Linked DNA regions of Homo sapiens: region 2 is linked to region 1. A link means that fine-mapping ties the variant in region 1 to the expression of a gene that starts in the linked region. Tissue or cell type: whole blood. Region 1 holds a variant in brackets; the other region holds the start of a gene. All regions are shown on one strand. Distances are from middle to middle.

Region 1 (8,000 bases):
CAGCAGGCAAGGCAGCAGGTGTCGCCTGGGATCTGGATTTCTTGCAGCGCCTCTGTGGGGCCCTCCCCCAGTTCTCTCCCCCTTGTCATCCACTCAAGGCAAGTCTTGGAGAAGGGAAACTGAGTTACTGACACAGGTTGGGGCAGCCACCGGATCTCTCAGAGTGGCTACATTTCTCCATCTGGCTCACAGCTGGCAACACGTGGATCCAAGGCAGGGTGGAGCGAGGTGCTTCCAAGAGGTAAAGCTGCTGAGATGAGCCCCTCTCTGTGCCAGCTGCTGGCGGGGCAGGAGCAGGACGAGAGAAGCCTGTTTGTTGCCAACACTCGTGCCTGGGCCATCCTCAATGAGTGGGCAGATGGCAACTGGGGAGGAAGTGAGAGGAGGAGGCGGCCTCGTTCCGTTGGTGGCAGAGAAAGGATTGAGTACCCCTGTGTGCCAGGCACTGTGCTGGGCCCCAGTGACCCTGGGAAGGGCAAGGTGCTGACTCTGACTATCTACCTTGATGAGATTTAGGGCTGTGGCAGCAAAGACCTTCCTTTGAGGACTCTCTGGTCTTAGGCTTTGGGCTTTCAGGTGTGGGGAGGCAGGGGGGCCAGGGCACTGTGCCCACTCAGATGGCCACAGTGCTTTGGGGGCTGGCTTTGTTAGGACGTGGGGGCAGTCATCCCACCCACAGGTTGCCCTATGCCCTCAGCACACCCTCACTCTCTCCTGGCACAGGCCGGGCATTTCAGTGACAAGGGGCGGGAGGGGACAGTGACAGTGGTCTCAAAGAGCCAGGCCCTGGCCAGGGTCTCCAGCAGGTACCAGAAGCAGGAGCTGTCCCAGGCAGGGGTCTCCGGGGGAGACGTGGAGAAAAGACGAGGCTTTGGCCGGGCACGGTGGCTCATGCCTGTAATCCCAGCACTTTGGGAGGCCAAGGTGGGCGGATCACCTGAGGCTGGGAGTTCAATACCAGTCTGAGCAACATGGAGAAACCCTGTCTCTACTTAAAATGCAAAATTAGCCAGGCATGGTGGCACACGCCTGTAATCCCAGCTACTCAGGAGGCTGAGGCAGGAGAATCACTTGAACCCGGGAGGCAGGGGTTGCGGTGAGCCGAGATTGCACCATTGCACTCCAGCCTGGGCAACAAGAGCAAAACTCTGTCTAAAAAAAAAAAGAAAAAGACCAGGCTTTGCTCTGTGGCTTTGGGGGTCTCCAGGCACACCCGCAAATCTGTTATGGTGAGAAAGGGGGCCTGACCCCCACTTTTGGAATTTCCAAAACCAGGGAAAACCCACAGATTAAAAATGCCGAGGGAGGGGGAAGAGCAAAGGGAGGGGATGGAGAGCAAAAAGAATCTTTCTGTGAGTTTTTTAAAAAGAAGCAAATATGGGTATTTCAGGCACCTACTTGGAACATTTCAAAAGAAACAGTAAATGCTTAAAACCACAGAGTGAAAAGTGCCCCAGGCGCCATCCACCGGCGGTGATGGATGGATGGATAGATACAGTGGCAGCAGCAGCAGCATGAGCGTGTTGGACTGCACGTGGGGCAGCCCTGGCTTAAGAGACAGGTCCAGGACGCAGCCTGGGCTTCGGAGCTGCAGGGCCTGGGAGGCGCTCTCTGTCAGCCCCTCTGGCGAGCCATAGGTGCTGAGTTTAGACTCTGGAAAGGGGGTGGCATGTATCTGTACTTTCTTGGTGCCTCTTGGACACTGAGGATGGGTATTTTGCAGCCTCTCTGCTGGCACAAGTGGCTCTTTGGTGGGGCAGGATGGTCTGGCTTCAGGACTGCCCTGACTTGGGGTTTTCAGGGGACACCAGTGACTTTAAACAACATGGTGAACTTCTCTTGATATCTGCTCCCTTTCAGTGTCCTGGGGGATGAGAAAGCAAGGGTGGGAACCAGGATCTTCTAGTCAAAGCACCAGACCTTGGGAGGAAAATATCTGCCACGTCCCCATCTAGTGCTTGAATGCTCCCAGTGACGGAGAGCTCACTGCCTGTTTCCTTTGCTGGGCTAGAGTTTCTCTTCCCTGACCTTCAGTTTTCCCTTTACCCACTCCCCTTTTACTGGCCACAAGGAGTGGATTGGAGACAGACCCACCCAGAACAGAAAGGAAGCAGAAAAGCCCACGGCTCTAGAGTCCTACTTTCTAAGGACTGGATGGGCCACTTGTCCCAGAGGCCTGAGTCCCTTTCCCTAGGGCAGTGCTGGAGCCTCAAGCCTGAGTGCTCTGGTCCATTTGGTGTTGTCTTCAGAGACCCTGGCTCCCCAGGGAGCCAAGCCAGGGCAGGTGCCCCCATCTTGCACCCCCAACCCCCCCACCCCACCCATCGAGGCCCAGAAAGTCCCTGCTATGCAGATAGCCACTTGGGGCAGGTTCATAAACCACGAAAAATCCCCCTTTCCCTGCACCTCCAAGGAGTTTAATCTCTCCTAATCAATTTAGCAGACTTGCTTGGTTGTAAACGGTAACGATTTGCATTTTTGAGCCTTTTTATCCCTCCTTAAGAAAAAAAAATGCCTCCTCTCTGCACTCGGAAGGCCAATGCACGGCTGCGAATCGCCTGTGAGTGCTTGCCCTGGCGCCCATCCAGGGGCAGGCAGCAGCCACCGTCACCTGTGCCAATCGAGTATGAGGAGGCACGCGGACGCCCGTCACTGACCCTGGCTGCGTCCTGGCCCTGAGAGCAGGGTCTGGCCCTTGGGGGCACAGGTCCCTGCGCCCGGCCCCTCCTGCCAGCACTGCCCCTGCTCTCCCCGTTGCCCTCCCCGCCCCTTTGCTCCCTCTTTGCTGCATCCAGTTCTCCTTGTTGTATTTTTCATAAGTGCAAGGCTCAGAAGCCCCAGCCTCCTCTCTGGCACGTTCAGCAGGAAGCAGGTTTCTGAAGTGGGCTGGCTTTGGGACTTGAGCTGCCATTTTCAAGGGGGAGGGTCTGCTCTTTCTCCTCCTCTCCTGGCTCCTTGGCTCCAGGGCCGGAGGTGAAGGAGGGAGGCACAGGTTCCGAGGCAGCCTTGGGTCCCAGCCTGTCCTCTGCTCAGGCCCTGACCAGCCCCTCCAACCCTTCAGGGATCCCTCACCTGACTTGGGCCAGCTAGAACCTTTCAGCACCAGCAGCGGGGAAGGGCCCCCACTTGGCCTCTGGAGCACCAGTTTCCTGAGTGACGCTGGACCCCTCCCTAGCACACCCCCACTTTACAGAAGGGGAAACAGAGGCTGTATTCTCACCAAACCCTCTTTCCCTGCACCGCTCTGGAAACATCTCCCCGACCCCCTCCTCAGCTCTCTGCCTGGCTTTGTTCGGACAGGGCTGGGCTGGGCTCAGAGGGAGGGTTTCCCAGATCCCCAGGGGAAGGAGGAGACCCGGTGCCTGTGTAGAGGGAGGGAGAAGAGGCACACGGCAGGTGTGGGCTTTGGGCTTTGGGAGAGTCAGGTTGGGCCCCTCCTAGCTGCTGCCATCTTCCCAGGTGCTGTCCCCTCCCCTGCCAGCGTCACCCAGAGCCAGGAAGGTGCAATGCCCCTGCTCTTGGCTCCGGACCTGCATCCTGGCCCTGTGTCAGGGAGGCCCCTGGCCGCCGCATGCACCATGTTAGCGTGGAGCAAGCCCCAGCCTATTTAGAGAAGATGGAGGCTGTGGCGGGAGGCCGTGGGGAGGGGGAAGGAGAAAAGGGAAGAAAAGGAGCTTTTGATGCACATCATGTCTGTGGAATTGAGTATGACTAATTAATAGATTTTATTTTTAGTAATCTCTTAAGCATTCCATACATTGGGCCCCACGCCTGAGCTGAGCTTACAAGAGGCCTCATTCGCAAAATGCAAATGATTCCCGGCCTGCTGGTGCCTTCTCTCTCTCCTTCCTTGCCTTTTCTTTCCTTTCCTTTTTTTTTTTTAGGGGAGATTTAAAGGAAAATTGCCATGTAATAGAAAAGAGATTCCAATCACTACATCTAATTACCACGAAGGGTAAACCACTTAACCAAAGAAGCGTCATGGGCTTTTTTTATCTTTAACTTTAAACCTGCCTTAAATGCCACAAAACGTACTCATCAGTGCTGGGGCCGCTGAGGTTATTCTGGCTACTTAGAGGCTGTGAGGGTCAGCCCAGCCGCGGACGTTCCCTTGGAAATGTCAGCTGTGCACGGGAGCCCGGGAGAATTTAGACAGGCTGGGGTTGGCATCCCAGGCCTTGTGTCCTCACGCATGTCTGAGGTGTAGGGGAGGCTGGGTGTCCTGAAACATCTCCTATCTTGTGGTATGAGACCAGCTGGGAGGAGCTGGGCCAAGAGGGGATGGGGTTTCAGAACGGACCTAGCTTCTGGCCCCTCCCTGGCTGAGGGGCTGTGACACAGCAGATATTTGGGGGCTTCCTCTGGGAAAGCCCAGAAAGGACCCTGGGAAGGTGTCAGGATAGCTAAGGGGCAGAAAAGATGAGAAAGTCAGCTCTAGAGCTGGGTCCCAGGGCCCTGACTGGGTGGAGCATCTACCTTCCTCCACACTTAGAGCGCCAGTGGGTGGGTGATCCCCACGATGAGGCAGGCAGGGTCTGGTAAGAGGGGCCGAGCCCCGCCCTCGCCCAGTTAGTGCAAGAACCAGGAACAGGAGACTCGCGTGGTCCTGGGGCCCAAGGAGCTCCTCTGGGGCAGCTGCCAGGGCTCCTGCCTGCCTGGGCCTGCTCTGTGCAATGGGAGGGGAGGAAAGCTCATCACTCAGGCCTTGTCTCGGAGGGCGTGGCTGGGCACAGGCTGGCTCCCAGCTCTGCCTGCTCTCTAGCACTAAGTCTCCCGCACTCCTGCCCCAGCCAAGCAGGACCTTCCCAGGCAGCTCTCACGGTCCGGGCCACCTGCTGTCCCCAGATGCCTTCCTAGCCACTAAGGGCATGACCTGACCTGTCTAGGGTGGGGAGAGGAGACAGGGGGACCTAGGTGAGGTGGGGACAGTGTGCTGGCAGCAC[C/T]GTGTTGCAGATGGGCGGGACTTGGGGGAAGGCAGTGATCAGAGTGGTGCCCTTCAGGGAGGGGTGGTCTCATTTTAGAATCAGCAGAGACCTGGGACTTCTGTCCCCTGTGCCAACGTGGCACACCTCGGGCACGCTCTCCTCCCAGACATCCCAGGTGGGCCCTTCTGCTCATCTCGGGGCTGGGGGGCCATGGTCCACTGGGAGGGCCTACTTTTTTTTTTTTGAGATGGAGTCTCACTCTTTGCCCAGGCTGGAATGCAGTGGCGCAATCTCGGTTCACTGCAGCCTCTGCCTCCCTGGTTCAAGCGATTCTCCTGCCTCAGCCTCCCGAGTAGCCAGGTAACAGGCGCCTGCCACCATGCCTGGCTAATTTTTGCATTTTTAGAGAGACGGACTTTCACCATGTTGGCCAGGCTGGTCTCAAACTCCTGACCTCAGAAAATCTGCCTGCCTCAGTCTCCCAAAGTGCTGGGATTACAGGCGTGAGCCACTGCACCCGGCCTGGGGCTGCCTTTTATACAGACCTGACATTAAGGCCTGGGGAAATTTCTCTCTTGACCTTATTGTGTGAGAAAATGATTCAGGCAGGAAAAGGAAAAACACGTCTAGTTTCGAGTGAAACGTGACCACGCTGCTCGGCTGTTCCCCAGGGCTGGGGAGTGGACCTATTTCGTGGGCTAGCCCCCCCAGGCCGTGCTGGGAGCCTGTGCCCATTTTTCCACTTTCCACGTGGCTGTTGTGTCCGCTCCTTTCAGCCCCATCTCCTCACTGAAGGTGGCGGTCGGGCCTTTTAACGTAACCCCTGCCCCGCTGCTGCTTCTGCCTTTGCTTTTCGCACGGTGGTGGAGGCCGTTTGAAAATAGCACCACCAGGCGCTCCCAGCCCTCTCATCCTCCTGCCCTCGGACCAGCATCTCCTCTTTGACGTTCCTTTTCCTTGGCGCAGAACAAGCGGCACAGTGACAGATGGTGACCCGGGCTCCCTGAGTACTGGGACGCAGGCACGTCGGAACCCCAGGCTCCGCTCTTCCTCCCTCTCCAATTCGCTGTCATTATTTCATCATCGTTTTAATCTCATGGCTCACCACACTGCACTGTCAGTTGATAAATGCATGATAGCGACATGGATTCCAGAGGGAGGAAATAAAATCTTAACTCTTCTGAGGGTCCCAGTCAGGGCCCTTTCGGAGGCTGGCATTTTTAGAAAGAGATCTGGTCTCTCCCTCTCAAGAAACAGAGTCCCAGGGGTGGGCCCAGCTGAGTTTTCTACATTCAGGGAGGGACTGCCATCACCCAGGGCTTTTTCGAGAATTTTTGTGTCTTTTTCTGGGCTTTGTTTGAGCAGCCATGGAAACCAATAGGTCTAATCAGCTGATATTTAAAAAAAAAATCCCTGCGCTAATTACCCGTCCTAGGAGGGAACATTCAGCACATGGTAAATGCTCAGAAAGTAGCTGTTAAGGTGATTGCACGTGGTGGGGGAGGGAGACGAGGACACTGGAATCAAATAAAGCTTTTATCTGTATCAGAAAGGAGAGCAGCCCAGTGCTGGCCAAGCTGAGCCAGGATGGGACTGGCAGCCCCAGCTGCGACGCCTCCCTAAGCCACCCGTCTGAGACATACACACCTCAGCCTTTAGGAACAGCAGCAGCCCCTGGAGACCAAGTCTCCTCCCCCACCTCACTCCCATCCCCAACACACGGTCTACTTACTCAAGGATTTCTAGGAGAAAGCAACACTTTCACAATTCTATTGTTCAGGAAATGGTAAGAACTGACCCAAGAAGAACGGTAAGGACCGTGCATGTGGCTCTATCTACCCATCTGTACTTAGAGACACCGCGACAGGGATAGACAGGCAGACAGATGCACCTCCAGGTGGCAGGGAAAGCTACGGCTTCCGCCGGGGCTTCTACGGAGCGTGGTGCATGGAACTGAAGAGGGCTTCAGCCTAGGAAAAAAAAGTTTGTTTTTTTTTTTTAATCGACTACATGATTGTTCAAAGAATGCAGTGAAAGATGCCATGTTTCTGCAAATCTGCAAGGGAAATGGTATGGAATAAGCCAGGGGAGAGATTTCAGGACCATATCTCCAGGGCAAAAGATCTTTTCTTCCCTCTCTCCTTTGTGAGGAGCCTGAAAACCTTCCATCGGGTCGCCAGCGAGTGGCCAGTGGCGGGAGAGCTGCGTGGGAGCTTTGAGAGCCGGCTGCTTCTCCCTGGCGGTTCCTTTGTGATGGCCTTGAACAGAGCATGAGGTGTCCACAGATGTTGTACAGGTAGTATCCTTCCAGTTCAGGGGGGAAAAAAAAAAAACCCAACCCAGCCCTGCCTGCAATATTATTTTTAGTCCTTCCCTCCCCAACTGGCATAACTTGGTATAAATTATGTCTTCAACAATGTCGAATTCCCCCTCCTGCCTTCTATTCTTTTAAAAAAAATTGTCACTGTTGTGTTCTACAAAATCGTCAGCCCTCCCCAAACTTTGCTTTCTGCGGAGGAAAGTCACCCATGGAATTTCTCTTCCTTGCTCTCTTGGATTGCAGCAGGCTGGGCAAAGCCACATGGCCACGCCAGGGCAGCTGGGGCTGAGGCGGGGCAGCCCGGGTGGGCGGGCATCATGTGTAGGAGTAGTCTATGTCGGGGATGCCGCCGTCCCGGTAGCCCCGCGTGGTGCCGTAGCCAATGGTGTGTGTGGCCTTGCAGAGGCTGCTGCCGTTGGAGGGGAAGATAGTGTGGACCACGTACTCTTCTTTGGCGCGGTACGGGTTGATGGGCAGCATCTGCAGCCCAGGGCCGCGGATTTCCAGGATGGAGTTATCCTTCTTGGTCCCTGACTCCATATAGTCATCCTTTTTCCTGCTGCCCCGGTTGTAGGCCCTCTCCCGGGTCAGCAGCTCGCCAGCCTGGTGCACGTACCAGCAGATGGCCCCCAGGACCAGGAAGAGGAAGACCAGAGCCACTGCCCCGCCGATGATGCCCGCCAGGGGCAGGCTCGCCATGGGGCCAGCGTTCTGCTCCTGGTTGAGTGTGGTGGTAGGGCCATAGCTGTCGGCTG
Region 2 (8,000 bases), 110 kb before region 1:
CCAGGGGACGGGGTGGGGCGGAGGAGTGGCCCCAGACTGGGGCTGGCGGGCCAGCGGGGAGGGGCACCTCCCAGGGGATGCACGCGCCGGGCCCCCGAGACGCCCGCGTCCAAGGCCGGACCCCGCAGATCCCCTCGGCCGAGGCCGCGGGTCGCCTCCTCACTTCCGCCAACCTTGAGAGAGGGCACGGCGGGCGGGCGGGCGCGCTGTCGGGCCGCACGTACCTGGGCGGGGGCCAGCTGCAGGAGTGCGGCGAGCAGCAGGCGGCGGAGCAGAGGGCTCATGGTGCCCGCCGGGGCCGCCCGCCGGGGGCGCCCGCATCGCCCTAGCCCGGCGGCGCGGGGGGCGGCGACAGCCAGAGCCCCATGGCGCGGGCCCGGGCGCGGCGGGCGGGGGCCGGGCGCGGGGGGCGACTCCTCCGCGGCCCCCTCCCGAGCCCTGGGTGCAGGCAGCGCAGCGCAGCGCAGCGGAGGCGGCCGGAGGAGCCGGGCGGGCGGGCGGCCGGTGGCGGCGGGCAGCGGCGGCGGGGACGGCGGGGGCGGCGGGGGGCTGGGCCCGGGCTGGCGGGCAGGCGGCTCATGTGACCCAGACACGCGCTCCCCACCGGCCCGTGGGGCGGGGGCGGGGCGGCGGGGTGGGGGGGCGAGGCCGTCGGCGGGGCCCGCCTCCTCCACACACCCCCTCCCGCCTCCCGCCGCGGCAGGGGAAAGGGGACGCACCGCCCAGGAGGCTGGGCTCCCCAGTCGCCGCCGCCACTACCCGGAGGGCGGGGCGCTGCCCCTTGGCGAGGCCGGGGCCGGGGGCGTCGGGCCTTAAGGAGGGAGCCGGACACGAGCTCTGCGAATCACTTTATTGCGCGCGTTTCGGGGAGCGGGCCGTCCAGGGAAGGAAGCAAAGCGGGAACGCACTGCAGGCCCCATCCAGGTGAGCCCCTCAGGGGCCGGCGCCCCGGGGCACGATCTCGGGGCCTTGGGTTGGCTCGGATGGTGGCGGCTGCCGCTGCCCTAGCCGTTGTCGCTCCTGCTGAAGGATGCCTCTGTTGGCCCTGGAGGAGAGGGCACCTGGGTGGTTGGGATAGGGATCCCGAAGTGTGGTTCCTGGACAGGGAGCAGGGAGCAGAATAGAGCAGGGACAGACCTGGCCCGTGCCCGGGCTTCGTTGTAGAAGGCTGTGATGATCCGATCCTTTTCATCCATGAAGTTAAGGTGCATCTGCTTCACCTTCCTGCAATGGGTCACAATTAACCCTGGGAATCCAATTCCTGCTGTCCCTGAAGTCCTGCCCCCTTCCACCCCACTCTAGGGGCCTCACAGCTTTTTACCCTTACACAGGGTTAGGAACCTCAGTCTAACCCTTCCTGTGATAGATAGGGAGGGCTCAGAGTGGCCCTGGCTTGTCTAGGGTCCAATGGCATCCGAAGTCCCTGGTCACTTTGAGGTGTGACAGCAGCTGTGGACATGGGGGTGCTCCTCCCAGAAGACTAGAAAGGGTATGCGTCTAACTCCATCACTGAACTAGGCAGGCTGCTAGCAGTGGGCACTGGCCTTTAGGTATCTGCTATAGAAAATCGGCTTTGTGGCCAGGCGCGGTAGCTCTCACCTGTAATCCCAGTACTTTGGGAGGCTGAGGCGGGTGGATCACCTGAGGTCAGGAGTTTGAGACCAGCCTGGCCAATATGGTGAAACCCCATCTCTACTAAAAATACAAAACAACTAGCCGGGTGTGGTGGTGGACGCCTGTAGTCCCAGCTACTCGGGAGGCTGAGACAGAAGAATTGCTTGAACCTGGGAGGCAGAGGTGGGGTTGCAGTGAGCCGAGATTGCGCCACTGCACTGCAGCCTGGGCAACAGAGTGAGACTCCATCTCAAAGAAAAAAAAAAGAAAAAAAGAGAATAAAGAGAATCAGCTCCGTGGCACGCGTGAGAGTGGCAGGGAGATGCCTACTGCCAAATGAATGAGCTGTGCTGCATTTGCTGCTTGTGCTTGATTTTGTTTGGCTCAATCCCTTCCTGGCAGCCAGCATGAAAGATTTACATTCGAAATATGAAAAACTGTAAATGACAACGTTAGCTCTTGGTGCAGCGCTGCCTTTAATAAGTAAGGAGAGGCTCCAGAGACCAACTTCAAGCAGCTCTTAGCTTGAGAGACACAAGAGTACGGGCCACGAGGTGCTGTGGAGGACTGGCTGACCACACTGGAATTCACCCACCCTCCTGCCCTCTGCCCATCACCCCGGGGAGAACAGGCATCACCTGAAGGCAATGTAGTGCAGGCCCATGCCCGCCAGCATGAGGAGGAGGCAGTACCCCAGCACTTGTTTGTTTTGTTTGTGTTGCTGCTGCCTCAACTGGGGCCCCTGTGGCCTCACGCTGTGAAACTGGGACCAGTACTGTGCGTTGGGGGGTGTCCAGGAGCTGCTGGGAGGCAGAGGAAGGGACATTGTGGAAATGAGACTACCCAAGAGACCTGGGGGTGGGGCAAGCTGAGGGCAGGATTACTGTACCTGTGTGTTTGGTGGGCAGACTTGTCATGGACTGTGGTTCGTGGAGACTTTGGGGGACTACCTGAGCGGAGCTGGTCATCATAGCTGCGGCGGCTCTGCTCACGGCTGAGCACACGGTATGCCTCGCTCAGCTCCACAAAGCGGCTGTGCAGGCTTGGGTTCCCAGGGTCCCGGTCTGGGTGCAGCTGGGGTGGGGCAGGACTCCCCTTATCTCCCTTTGCCTGTCCCTCCCCAGGACCCATGCTGATGACATCCACCCACCAGGGCTCCAGTCATACCCAGAGGCCCTGCCTGGTCAGTGACCCTCACTCAGGCCTGCCCACTCCTCAGAAGGCCAGAGAGCATGGACTCCTGCTTCCTCCTGTGTTCAAGCCCTCCCCACCTGCCAGCCCCCTGCATTCACCATATGCCCTGGTCCAGGTTTCTCAAGAGCAGGCAGGCAGGTCAAGAAAACCAAGCCCAGCCCATCAGACAGGACCCCTGGCTCCTGCCCACAGCCTTTCCCCTACCATTGAGCACCTGCCACTCCCTATGAGGGCTGAAAAAATGTGGCACCCGCCAGAGATGCTGGTCTACTCCTGGGAATTTGAAGCACACCCCCACTGGCTCAAAGTTCCTGCTCCCCCTCCCCACCTCAGGGGTACGGGTACCTCTTTGGACTTGGAGAAGAAAGCTCGTTTAACTTCCTCAGTGCTGGCACCAGGATGCACCCCCAACAGTTCATAATAAGTACTGGGTCTGGACCTGTGGACAGAGTCCCAAACCTTGCAGGGGCTGAAGGAACCCAGAAGCTAGCTCTGCCCTGCCTTCTGGGCCACACCCTTCAACTCAGCCACCAGGAGCTGACAGGGCTGAAACAGGTCCCAGGACAGATCTGTCTCCAGATCAGCACCCCCTTTGGAGTGTTTCAGGCATAGTGCAGGTCAGGATTTCTCAAAGTGGAGTCCAAAAACTTGTTGGAAAAAACTGATTCCTGGACAGGCGCGGTGGCTCACGCCTGTAATCCAGCATTTTGGGAGGCCGAGGAGGGCGGATCACCTGAGGTCGGGAGTTCAAGACCAGCCTGACTAACATGGAGAAACCCTGTCTCTCCTAAAAATACAAAATTAGCCGGGCGTGGTGGTGCATGCCCGTAATCCCAGCTACTCGGGAGGCTGAGGCAGGAGAATCGCTTGAACCCGGGAGGCGGAGGTTGTGGTGAGCCGAGATTGCTCCATTGCACTCCAGCCTGGGCAACGAGCGAAACTCCATCTCAAAAAAAAAAAAAAAAAAGGAAAAAGAGAAAGAAACTGATTCCTGACCCCCACCCAATTGATTCCTCCAGTTCAGAATCTCCAGAGCAGAGCCCAGGAATCTGGATTTTGTACCCGACACCTCCCCATCTCCCACCCCCCACAGAGGGTTATGCACAGTGATACAGCGATGCTTGGAAACCACTAGAGCTGTGGTAAGAGCGTTGGGTTTGACCTGGACTCAAACTTCCTCCTCTGCCGCTTAAATCGGTGTATGACCTTGGGGGTCTTCTCTATCTCTGATCCTCAGCAGGGAAGGCGAGGGTTACCTGAGACAAACCTGGGAGCCTCCTGACACGGAGTAGAGACCACAACTAACTCAGCACGTAGGGCAAACAGAAACCCATTGAACAACCGGGCCGGCCCCCCGCGCCCAACTCACCGCTGCCCGGCGGCCGCTCCGAGGAGCCGGGAGGGAGGGTTGCGGGGCCACAGCCGGCACAGGCGCAGGGGCAGTAAGGGCGGCATGGCGGCGGGCGGGCAGCTGGGAAAGGAGGCTACCAAGAGCGCATTGGACCAGGATGGGGCTAGACTTCAAGCACCCGGGGGCAGAGGGAAGGGGCCTGGCCCGTTGTTCTGCAAAGGAAGACTGAAGCAGGCCCGGAGAGGGGGCGGTTCTTGCCCAGGACCAGACCCGCGTGTCCTTGGACCTGCCCCTTCCTCTGACCCGGGCATCCGCAGCCCTTCCCAGCGCTGGCTTCGGGGTCTGGCCACCCAGCCAGGGACCCCAAGACCCCGTTCCCACCCAGGGAACTTGGGGACGGGAGAAGGAGGGGCCACAACCAGGCCCCGCCCCCGCTGCTCACAGACCCGCGGCCGTCGCCATTTCCTGCGTCTATTCAGGCCCCGCCCTCACATTCTCATTGGCGTGGATGCCAAGACCACGTCCACCTGTCAGGAAAAAAAAAAAAATCGGTGGAGACCCCGCCCCTACATGTCTATTGGCCTTTGGTGCCTCCGGTCCCCCAGCCTGCGGACTCGCTGGACAGGCGCGGGCGCCCACCTGGGGAGCGGGCGGGACAGAGCCCGCTCTCTGCGGCTTTGTGACGTTTTCGGCCCGGCCACCGTGTCTCCGTTCCGCTGTTGCTCCCCTCTGCAGCGAGGTATATCTTACGGAGCTGCTTCCGCCCCGGAGCCTCTCTGGAGCCAGCAAAGAAAGGGAGGCACAGTTCTTATCCCCTGCTTGCAGAGGGGGACACAGGCTGGGCGGGTTTTTTTTTTTTTTTTTCCCAAGTCACTTGTCCTGCCTTACACACTCAGGGCCCATTGCTCCTCTCTGTTACAGAAATAGCAGATGCCAACGGAATCCAAGAATAAAGTCGTTTATTATTTTCAGAGCGGCGGGAGTAGGGCTGGGGACCCTAGGGCCGCTCCAGTGGGACTTCCCTGAACCCGGTTGTAGAGGATGATGGCGCCTTTGGCCGAGGGGCAGAGTTCAGCCCACATCTCCGTCTCGAGCAATCTCTGCACGTTCTGTGGGGAGACAACGAGACCCAGGCATTCAAGCTTGCCACTTCTCCTGCCAGGGCTGTGCCCAGAATTCCTGAGCCTCAGAGACCTCTGCACTGTCCTTAGGGAGGCATGTTAAGGGGCTGAACATGTCCCTGGACCTTTCCCTTGCACTGAGGGCAAATCTTGTGACTCTGGAGGGAATTGTGACCCAGCCAACACCTCCCCTACAAGATATGCATTGCCAGGCCTCTGCAGGCCCCAGCCCTGGCCTCCAAGCAAGATGGTTTGTCACTCTGCACCTGTGTCTCCACAAAGAAGATTCCTGTAGACTCGTGGGCCTCGGGTCCCCCACTCAGGTAGTGCTTCCTCACCTGCTCAGAAGTCAGGCTGCACCTGGACAAGAACACAAGGGTGGCTTAGTGGGTGACCAGCCCCTGCGGGGTACCTGTGGAGCCACAGCTGCCTCAGCCCACTCCTCACCACCCACCTTCCCAAGACCCAGGATCATGTACCCGAGCCTACTCACTGGACATAGAACTCGGCACTGGCTCGGCCAGCACTGGTCTCATTTCGGGCGATGCCCAACAGCAGGGGCTGGCTCAGGGTGAGCAGCGGCAGGTTCACCTGCGGTGGAGGGTGGGGTGGGGGGAGGTCCCACCTATCAATGCCACTGCCCACATCCCTGCCCGTCTCAATGAAAAACCGCCTGTTACCTGTGTACAGCATTTTATAGCTTGTAGATCAAGGACCCAGCATTACAGAATGTCAGATGATGGGCATGTTTGTTTTACAGGTACACCAAAACCAGAGAGATTGAACACGTTGCCCAAGGTCACCCAAGAGAAGTCAATTTAGTGACTGGGACTCCCACTTACTCCTTTTTCTTTTTTTCTTTTTTTGAGATGGAGTCTCGCTCTGTCGCCCAGGCTGGAGTACAGTGGCACGATCTCAGCTCACTGCAACCTCTGCCTCCCAGGTTAAAGTGATTCTCCTGCCTCAGCCTCCTGAGTAGCTGGGATTACAGGTGCACGCCACAACGCCTGGCTAATTTTTTGTATTTTTAGTAGAGATGGGGTTTCTCCATGTTGGCCAGGCTGGTCTCGAACTCCTGACCTCAGGTGATCCGCTGGCCTTGGCCTCCCAAAGTGCTGGGATTACAGGTGTGAGCCACCACACCCTGCCACACTTACTCCTTTTTCTTTTTTTTGAGACGGAGTCTCGCTTTGTCGCCCAGGCTGAAGTGCAGTGGCGCGATTTCGGCTCACTGCAACCTCCGCCTCCCGGGTTCACGCCATTCTCCTGCCTCAGCCTCCTGAGTAGCTGGGACTACAGGTGCCCGCCACCACGCCCGGCTAACTTTTGGTATTTTTAGTAAAGTCAGGGTTTCACCGTGTTAGCCAGGATGGTCTTGATCTCCTGACCTTGTGATCTGCCCACCTCAGCCTCCCAAAGTGCTGGGATTACAGGCATGAGCCACGGCGCCCGGCCACTTACTCCTTTTTCAACAGACTTGGGGAGTAGGCAAGATATTTATCATTGTTTCCATTGAAAAGAAGAATCCTTGGCGGGGCAAGGCATGAGAATCACTTGAACCCAGGAGGCGAAGGTTGCAGTGAGCCGATATGCCACCACTGCACTAGCCTGGGCAACAGAGCAAGACTCTGTCTCAAAAAGAAAAAAAAAAAAAAGAAGAAGAATCCGGCCTGGTGCAGTGGCTCACACCTGTAATCCCAGCACTTTTGGAGGCTGAGGCAGGCAGATCACGAGGTCAGGAGATCAAGACCATCCTGGCTAACAAGGTGAAACCCCATCTCTACTAAAAATACAAAAAAAATTAGCCAGGCATGGTGGCGGATGCCTGTAGTCCCAGCTACTCAGGAGGCTGAGGTAGGAGAATGGCGTGAACCCGGGAGGTGGAGCTTGCAGTGAGCAGAGATCGTGCCACTGCATTCCAGCCTGGGCAACAGAGCGAGACTCTGTCTAAAAAAAAAAAAAGAAAGAAAAAAGAAAAGAAGAAGAATCCAAGGCAGAGGGTACTGAGGGCTAGAATTCCACTCCAAGTATGTATAGCTGCAAAGCCAACTTCTTCCCTCATTGCTGGCCAGATGCCTGCAGGCCTCCTGCCAGCCCAGACCTGTAGAATTCTGGCAAGTCCTACCCCCTCCCTTCATGTCTACCACCCTGTCCAGGTCAACCTCACTCACCTCATCACAGATCTCCTGAAGGACACTGGAAAAGAGTTCATGTACCACCAGCTGCCCAGCGAGGTCCTGGTGCTGGGGGCTGCCACCAGGGCACAGGGCCTGTGAGAGGTCAGGCTCAGCCCCTGCTCCCCACCTCTTCCCCCTGCCCCATCTCAGGACCAGCAAGCCTATACCTGCTGGCCTTGAGGGTCTGATGTGGCACAGTGTAAGAGAGTTAGTGATCCTGAGTCTGGTGTCCTTTCCCTGACAGACAACCAGAGGTCCAGCTTCAAAGGAGATACACAGGGGGCAGGGGTGGAGTAGGGCATCTTCTTCCTGTGCCCAATCTTTCCTCCCGTGTTTTCTAGTTTCTCACAGGACTGGGGCAGGGGTCAGTGGGGAGGCAGGTGGACTGCCCTGAGCAAACTTCCAGAGAAATACCAGGCCAATTTTCCCTTTAAGGAATGAGGAAACCAAAGCTGGGAGGATTGGGAGGGTGGAGAGCTGCAGCTCCCTTGAGCTGTCTGGGTCTTTGTGCCCAGCCTGGAATCTCACCTGAGGCTCAGGGTG

Evidence for each region. PIP is the estimated chance that this variant, and not a neighbour inherited with it, causes the effect.
Region 2: DNAJC4 starts here. The variant in region 1 is fine-mapped to the expression of DNAJC4 in whole blood (TOPMed, PIP above 0.99).

Annotation. Positions count from the first base shown.
Region 1 is chr11:64,117,853-64,125,852 of GRCh38, reverse strand. The region is part of intron 3 of MACROD1 (mono-ADP ribosylhydrolase 1); the gene reads left to right. It overlaps FLRT1 (fibronectin leucine rich transmembrane protein 1), which reads right to left. Exons shown (of 3, transcript NM_013280.5): 3 at 6,682-8,000. The coding sequence ends at 7,561. Among named protein-coding and RNA genes, the nearest start is that of MACROD1, 44 kb to the left of the region's middle. RefSeq lists an enhancer at 3,035-3,966. The variant C/T (reference allele first, on the strand shown) is at 4,944.
Region 2 is chr11:64,227,118-64,235,117 of GRCh38, reverse strand. It overlaps DNAJC4 (DnaJ heat shock protein family (Hsp40) member C4), which reads right to left and starts at 4,570. Exons shown (of 6, transcript NM_005528.4): 1 at 4,178-4,570; 2 at 3,154-3,247; 3 at 2,504-2,688; 4 at 2,253-2,414; 5 at 1,138-1,224; 6 at 837-1,045. The coding sequence starts at 4,263. The coding sequence ends at 934. It overlaps NUDT22 (nudix hydrolase 22), which reads right to left. Exons shown (of 6, transcript NM_032344.4): 2 at 7,986-8,000; 3 at 7,452-7,550; 4 at 5,774-5,871; 5 at 5,547-5,640; 6 at 5,102-5,268. The coding sequence ends at 5,128. VEGFB (vascular endothelial growth factor B) reads right to left here and starts at 534. Exons shown (of 7, transcript NM_003377.5): 1 at 225-534. The coding sequence starts at 284. It overlaps LOC124902687 (a long non-coding RNA gene), which reads left to right and starts at 3,748. Exons shown (of 2, transcript XR_007062713.1): 1 at 3,748-3,950; 2 at 5,081-5,972. RefSeq lists silencers at 1-276, 497-986, 4,170-4,229 and an enhancer at 7,666-8,000.